2 linked regions of the Homo sapiens genome follow. The protein of the gene in region 1 interacts with the protein of each later gene in a biochemical or structural test. Each region holds a gene or a part of one and is shown on either strand. Other genes may lie near its edges.

What was found.
Region 2: of the proteins of MST1R (region 1) and FURIN, one has a biochemical effect on the other in vitro, tested with the Homo sapiens proteins (one study listed by IntAct).

The regions. Positions count from the first base shown.
Region 1 is NC_000003.12:49,890,012-49,893,916, reverse strand, and holds part of MST1R (macrophage-stimulating protein receptor isoform 1 preproprotein), read left to right. Parts: intron 1-2,078; coding exon 2,079-2,159; intron 2,160-2,336; coding exon 2,337-2,518; intron 2,519-2,610; coding exon 2,611-2,720; intron 2,721-3,266; coding exon 3,267-3,432; intron 3,433-3,856; coding exon 3,857-3,905. UniProt on the Homo sapiens protein: Receptor tyrosine kinase that transduces signals from the extracellular matrix into the cytoplasm by binding to MST1 ligand. Regulates many physiological processes including cell survival, migration and differentiation.
Region 2 is NC_000015.10:90,871,468-90,875,372, forward strand, and holds part of FURIN (furin isoform 1 preproprotein), read left to right. Parts: intron 1-72; exon of another isoform or gene 73-138; intron 139-700; exon of another isoform or gene 701-759; intron 760-1,386; exon of another isoform or gene 1,387-1,631; intron 1,632-3,905. UniProt on the Homo sapiens protein: Ubiquitous endoprotease within constitutive secretory pathways capable of cleavage at the RX(K/R)R consensus motif. Mediates processing of TGFB1, an essential step in TGF-beta-1 activation.

The sequences.
Region 1 (3,905 bases):
TATTTTTTTTTTTTTTTTGAGAGGGAGTCTCACTCTTTCACCCAGGCTGGAGTGCAGTGGCGCGATCTCGACTCACTGCAAGCTCCGCCTCCCAGGTTCATGCCATTCTCCTGCCTCAGCCTCCCAAGTAGCTGGGACTACAGGCGCCTGCCACCGTGCCCGGCTAATTTTTTGTATTTTTAGTAGAGATGGGGTTTCACCGTGTTAGCCAGGATGGTCTCGATCTCCTGACCTCATGATCCACCCGCCTCAGCCTCCCAAAGTGCTGGGATTACAGGTGTGAGCCACCGCGCCCGGCCTATTTTATTTTTTCAAGATGGAGTCTTGCTCTATCACCCAGGCTGGAGTGCAGTGGTGCAATCTTGGCTCACTGCAACCTCCCCCTCCCAGGTTCAAGCAATTCTCCTGCCTCACCCTCCCTAGTAGCTGGGATTACAGGCGCCCGCCACCACACCTGGCTAATTTTTGTATTTTTAGTAGAGATGGGGTTTCACCATGTTGGCCAGGCTGGTCTCAAACTCCTAACCTCAGGTGATCTGCCTGCCTTGATCTCCCAAAGTGCTGGGATTACAGGCGTGAGCCACTGTATCCAGCCTATTTATTTATTTATTTATTTATTTATTTATTTATTTATTTTTGAGACAGAACCTCACTCTGTCACCCAGGCTGGAGTGCAGTGGCATGATCTCAGCTCACTGCAACCTCTGCCTCCCGGATTCAAGTGATTCTCCTGCCTCAGCCTCCTAAGTAGCTGGGATTACAGACGTGCACCACCAAGCCCGTCTAATTTTTGTATTTTTAGTAGAAATGGAGTTTCATCATGTTGGCCAGGCTGGTCTCAAACTCCCGACCTCAGGTGATCCGCCCGCCTCGGCCTCCCGAAGTGCTGGGATTACAGGCGTGAGCCATCGCACCCGACCCTGCTTTATTTACTTATTTATTTATTTTTATTTTTTTGAGACAGAGTCTCACTCTATTGCCCAGGCTGGAGTGCAGTAGTGCAATCTCGGCTCACTGCAACCTCTGCCTCCTGGATTCAAGCATTTCTCCTGCCTCAGCCTCCTGAGTAGCTGGGATTACAGGGGCCTGCCACTGCCACCACACCTGTCTAATTTTTGTAGTTTTAGTAGAGACGGGGTTTCATCATGTTGGCCAGACTGGTCTTGAACCCCTGACCTCAGCTGATCCTCCCGCCCCAGCATCCCAAAGTATTAGGATTAAAGGCATGAGCCTTTTTTTTTTTTTTTTAATTTAAAAAAAAGACAGCATCTCACTATGTTACCCAGGCTGGCCTTGAACTCCTGGGCTTATGCGATTCTCTTGCCTCAGCCTCCTGAGTAACTGGGATTACAGGCGCACTGCGCTTGGCTTCTGCTGCTTTTCTTTGAGGGGGATGGAGTCTCGCCCTGTCTCTCAGGCTGGAGTGCAGTGACACGATCTTGGCTCACTGCAACCTCTGCCTCCCGGGTTCAAGCTATCCTCCTGCCTCAGGCTCCCAAGCAGCTGGGACTAGAGATGGGGTTTCACCATATTAGCCAGGCTGGTCTCAAACTCCTGACCTCGTGATCCACCCGCCTTGGCCTCTCAAAGTGCTGGCATTACAGGTGTGAGCCACTGCACGCAGCCCTGCTGCTTTTTTAAAATGTCAGATTGGGCCGGGTGTGGTGGCTCACACCTGTAATCCCAGCACTTTGGGAGGCCTAGGTGGGTGAATCACAAGATCAGGAGTTTGAGACCAGCCTGGCCAACATGGTGAAACCCAGTCTCTACTAAAAATACAAAAAAATTAGCTGTGTGTAGTGGCAGTTGCCTGTAATCCCAGCTACTCAGGAGGCTGAGGCAGGAGAATCACTTGAACCTGGGAGGCAGAGGTTGCAATGAGTTGAGATTGCACCACTGCACTTCAGCCTGGGCAAGAGTGAGACTCGGTCTCAAAAAAAATAAATAAAAATTAAAAATAAATAAAATGTCAGATTGGCCAGTTTAGTGCTCTGAGGTCTGGTTGCCAATGAGAATGTGTGGTGTGAGCCTTGGGCCCTGGATCCCCTCTCATCGACTCATTATGCACCTCACACCAGGCCACTTTGGAGTTGTCTACCACGGAGAATACATAGACCAGGCCCAGAATCGAATCCAATGTGCCATCAAGTCACTAAGTCGTAAGTGGGGCAGAAGATGGGAAGGCAGAGGGAGGGGCCTCAGGCTGGGAGGATTCTTTTTCTCTGTGTTCCCACCTTACTGAGTGACCCTGAGCAGGAGACCTTCATTTCCCATTTCCCCATCTGAGCCTTATAAAGGGACGCCCTGCCCTGTGCCTGACTTGCGCTGCTCTGCAGGCATCACAGAGATGCAGCAGGTGGAGGCCTTCCTGCGAGAGGGGCTGCTCATGCGTGGCCTGAACCACCCGAATGTGCTGGCTCTCATTGGTATCATGTTGCCACCTGAGGGCCTGCCCCATGTGCTGCTGCCCTATATGTGCCACGGTGACCTGCTCCAGTTCATCCGCTCACCTCAGCGGGTCAGTGTTCATCTGGCTCTGGGTTGGGGGCTGGGCAGCAGCTGGAGAAGGAGCTGCTGTGCCCTTGCCCACCAACCCACCTGTGCCCCCAGAACCCCACCGTGAAGGACCTCATCAGCTTTGGCCTGCAGGTAGCCCGCGGCATGGAGTACCTGGCAGAGCAGAAGTTTGTGCACAGGGACCTGGCTGCGCGGAACTGCATGTGAGAGTCCAGAGTAGCTGGGGTGAAGCAAAAGGACAGGGCATGAGGGTGTGCGGTGCTCAAGGCCGCCTCAGGGAAGGGCCCACTCCAGCCTTGTCCTCCCCTCTCTGCACCTTACTTTTTTTGTCTGCCCAGTGCAGACTTGGACTGGACACTGTGGCTTTGAAATTTGGCCAGGCGCGGTGGCTCACGTCTGTAATCCCAGCACTTTGGGAGGCTGAGGAAGGCGGATCATGAGGTCAGGAGATCGAGACCATCCTGGCTAACACGGTGAAACCCCGTCTCTACTAAAAATACAAAAAGATTAGCCAGGCGTGGTGGCGGGCCCCTGTAGTCCCAGCTACTCAGGAGGCTGAGGCGGGAGAATGGCGTGACCCCAGGAGGCAGAGCTTGCAGTGAGCGGAGATCGCGCCACTGCACTCCAGCCTGGGTGACAGAGCGAGACTCCGTCTCAAAAAAAAAAAAAATTCTGTAAGGGCCTAGAACAGGTGGGTTCAGGGCCTGGTAAGGGCCAGTCCTAAGTGTGATCCTCTCCCTACCCCTAAGGCTGGACGAGTCATTCACAGTCAAGGTGGCTGACTTTGGTTTGGCCCGCGACATCCTGGACAGGGAGTACTATAGTGTTCAACAGCATCGCCACGCTCGCCTACCTGTGAAGTGGATGGCGCTGGAGAGCCTGCAGACCTATAGATTTACCACCAAGTCTGATGTGGTGAGGCCCCACCTGCCCTACAGTCCACATGGCTTTGGCACCCAAGAACACTGGGCCTCACCCATTCAGCTCTGAATGATCTGAGCCCAGGGAGTCCCCAGGGTAGATGACCCCCACAGCCCATCTGCTCACCTCTTGGGCAGATGTAAGATGGAATCTGACACCTGCCAGGGCTAGAGGAGGCTGGGAACTCACTGGCTCCTCACAGATAATCCAGGGCCTGCCCAGCCCCAACTCTGGGTAGGATGAGGTAGTGGGAGGAGACAGAGGAAAGACACAGGTGATGTATTGAGGAATGAGCTCTCAGTGGAGGGTAGGGTCTTCCATTTCCAGCTGAAGGACTCTGGGAGGTAGAAGCCCTGGGGGACCCACCTGCCCCCAAATTTGGGGTGAGTTGAGTCCCCTCACCTCCCCCTTTCCACAGTGGTCATTTGGTGTGCTGCTGTGGGAACTGCTGACACGGGGTGCCCCAC
Region 2 (3,905 bases), on another chromosome or scaffold:
CGCGGGGCCGGACGCGCTGGGGCCCACGGCGCTGGGAACGCGGGCCCGCAGTCGGGCCCGGGCGGCATGGGCGGCCGAGGGGCGCCCGAGCCGCCGCGGCGGTCGCCTGGAAAAGTTTCCCCGCCAGGGCTCCCCAGGGTAAGTAGCGAGGGCGCGGGGCCCGGGGCCCGGGGAAGGCAAGCGCGTCTGGGAGCCGGGCCCGAGGGGAGCCGGCCGGGCCGGGCCGTGGAGCTCTGCCCCAGGAGCGGGCTCCGCGGCCCGGGTGCTCGGGCCGGGGAGGGTCGGGGCACTGGCGCCGGTGCAGCCCTGACCCGGGTCCCCCGGGGCCCGGCTGCCCGCCGGCTTTCCGGAACTGGCCCCGGGGCCGGCCCCGAGGGTGGAGCTGCCGGGAGCAGACAGGGCGCTCCGCAGCCCACCTGAGCGCGCCGGGCCCGTCTCGGCCCCCCGGCCGTGGCTGGTACTTTTCCGCGTGGGGCCAGGGCGAGCCCTCTGACCTCAGGAAGCGCCTGCGGGGCCCCTGCTGGGGGCGGGATGGGGAGAAAATTCCGCAGGCGCCGGGTGCTCCAGCCTCCCCGCCGCCACCGGGGCTGCCGCCGGCTCGCCCACTCCGCGGCCGAGGAGGGCCTGCGTTCCGCCCGGGGAGGGGAGGAGCGGCCGGGGGCGAGGCGGGGGCTCCTTCGCTTGGGCCTCGCCCCCGCCCGCACACCTGTGCGGCCAGGACTCGGGTGCGGGATCCGCGGGCGCCGGCGGCCGGCGCAGGTAGGTCCCTGGGCTGCCTTCTGCCGCGGCCTGGCCGAGGCCCCTGTGCCCCCGCTGTGTGGCTGGACCAAGGGGCGGCCTGCTTGCCAGACAGGTCTGACGGCAGTCACTTGTCTGGTCAGAACCCGCTTTCCCATCATCCTCTACCCCCTGGCCCCTGGGGTGCAGACCCTCATCCACCGGAGAGTGTTGGGATTCCTATTCTGACTTGGGAAGTGCGAGGAGAACCCGGGTGATATGGCCTGGTGAGGGCGGGTGCTGAGCAGGTGTGGACACAGCATAGGAGATTAGCCAAGCCTGACCTCTTCTCAAGCAGGGCAGCCCTCGTTTTACTATTTCCTATATTGGGCTTCTACGGAGCATTTGATTTTTAAAAAGGATTCTGTGGCTTTTTAAAAAGTTTGAAAGCCGCTGGTCCAGCAGTTTTTACCACCAAGGAAACTGAGGCCCAGGGAGAGGAAGTGACTTGTTAAGATCATCCAGCAAATAGTGGGCAGGGACTGGGAGCGATAAATTCACGGGAGCCTCCCAGGGCTGGTAACAGGACCCCGCGTGGTGTCTCTGCTAGAGGGAGAGACTGATTGGGTGTCCGAGTGGCCCTCCCGTGGCCTGCTCTGTGGCTGTGTCAGAGCCAGACCCCCAGTGTCTGGGAAACAGCAGTCGGTCCTGGGGTGAGGCGCAATTTGAGTGGCCCAGAGTGGCTCTCTGTGTCAGGAGGTTCTGGTGCTGGAGAAAAGGGCTTTGCCCAAGAACACAGCCAGGAAGAGCACCCACAGCTCTCTCTGGCCACAGCCTGGAACAGAGTCCCATGTGAAACAAGACCATGAGAAATACAGCAAGCCTCCAGGTTTGAGACAAACTGGGACTAGAGGGTGAGTCAGAGTCTGGGATGGGGGTGGGGAGAAACCCATTCATTCATTGTTTTCAGTTCTTACTCTTTTCGGGGATCCTCCCTTGTCCCACATGCTGTGGCAGAGCCGTCTGTGGGGGTCTCATTTTCTGGAAGCCATCCCCACCCCTCACCATGGCTGGGGTTGTTGGATAGAGGGAGGCTGGCCCTCTTTCTTTGGGGGGACTGTTCAGTTGCGCCTGACGCCTGCTTTCTTTCCGAGTGCTGCAAGGTAATTAAATAGTTGGTTAATCACTTTTAACGCCAAACAGCTGCGGCTCCATCTACAGTGTGCTGGAATCTGGGCTAGACCCAGATGAACCCAGCCTCGATTTGGGGGCTCCAGCAGGACTCACAGCACGGTGGTTGGTGGTGGTGGGGGCAGGGGGGTGGTTGCATGACATCTGGACCCAAGAGGCAGCTGTTGTGGCAGCAAGAGAGAGGAGAGAGATGAGGCCCCGTTCCTATATGGCTCTGCTCCCAGGGTCCCACATCCTCTGTTAAATGAGGGACTTGGGGTGGGGGGGGCGGTCCTTCCATCCCCTAGGGCTGGGGCGCCTAGCTGCCCAGCCATTGATCAGGCCAGCTTTCTGGAACCAACCACCCAAAGCACCATGGGGCTGTGGTTCCGAGGCCTGCCCTGGAAGTCCTGTGGAGTCTGCCCGCAGGGATGTGCAGGAGCTGTATTGTAGATGTCTCCTGCCATCAGCTGTCAGGTTATTTTGGTCCAAACTGAAAATACTCCAGGAATTGTGTGTGGAGTACCCCCAGCCTGCAGGGTGGGACTGCAGCAGTCAGGGAGGCCGGTTGTGTCTAAGGGCAGCTTCTGGAGAAGCAAGGAGTTTTCTGTGGTGAGCCTGCCTCTCTAGCTCCCCAGGGCCTACGTGAGCTGGGGTGCCTTCCTTTTGGTATCCGGCAGAGTGGCCTTGGCTATGGAAGTGCTAAGGGCATCCAGGGCCCTGCTGCTGCTCAGGGAGCTTGGCACTGATATGGGATACCCCCAGCAGCACTGCTGGGACCTCCCCTAGCTTCCCCCCCTTCCTCCAGGGCCTTGGCTTCTGGCTAGTCAGGGGCACTATGTGGGGACAGTTATGTGGCCCCGGGCAGAGAGAGGTCCCGCCGTCTGTTTGCTGAAGGAGGAAAAACAACACTCGGACTATTGATTCAGTCTCACCTTGGCGCTCCTGGCTCAGCAGCCAGTGTTTGCCCTGGCTGCCTGGGCTCGGATTACGCAAGGCTGGTGGGCGTGGAGCAAGCAAGGGGGCAGCTGGGGGCCTCCAGGCCCAGGCAGGGCAGGGCTTGGCGGCCCCAGCGTTCCCCAGGAAACTGTAAAAACGAGTCTGGGGCCCTGACTTTGCTGATAGCGGCCATCTCAGCCATAGAGGGAGGTGAAGCCTCTGTGATCTCCACCCCCGCACCCCCTCAGGACATGGCCCCTAAAAGCACCATCCCATTTAGGGTCACCCATTTTCTTCCTAGGAGCTGTGGGGCTTTGCGAATAACTCCCTATGGCTGAATCTGCTTTGCTGAACTAGGAAACCCTAGTGAGTTGTATAGATGCCATTCATTTAAGAACCTTGAAAAGCCAACATCTTATTCCCATGTAAAACATACCTAGGTGATTTGGAGAATACAGTGACACAAAGAAGAAAATAACAATTACTTGTAATTCTCACCATCTTGAGAGAACCACCGTTAACATTTTTTAGCGTGTGTATCCTTCCAGATTTCGCTTTAGTTTGTATAAATATACATGTATAAATAGTTTTTAAAAAATAAAATGGGATTATGTGTACATACTGCTTTATAATGCATCTTCTTTACCTTGATCATGGTGAACATTTATTCATTTGTTGTTTCTGATTTTGAGTGACTCAGGGCTTGATAGTCTTCATCCTGCTTCTTCTGTTACACTTTTTTTTTTTTTTTTTTTTTTGAGAGGGAGTATCGTTCTGTCGCACAGACTGGGAATGCAGTGGCGCGATCTTGGCTCACTGCAACCTCCACCTCCTGGGCTCAAGCAATTCTTGTGCCTCAGCCTCCCAAGTCGCTGGCACTACAAGCACCCGCCACCACACTTGGCTCATGTTTGTATTTTTAGTAGAGACGAGGTTGCACCATGTTGGCCAGGCTGGCCTCGAACTCCTGACCTCAGGTGATCCACCCGCCTCAGCCTCCCAAAGTGCTGGATGACAGAAGTGAGCCACCATGCCTGGCCCTTCTGTTACATTTCTTATATTCTTGCATGGAGAAAGGA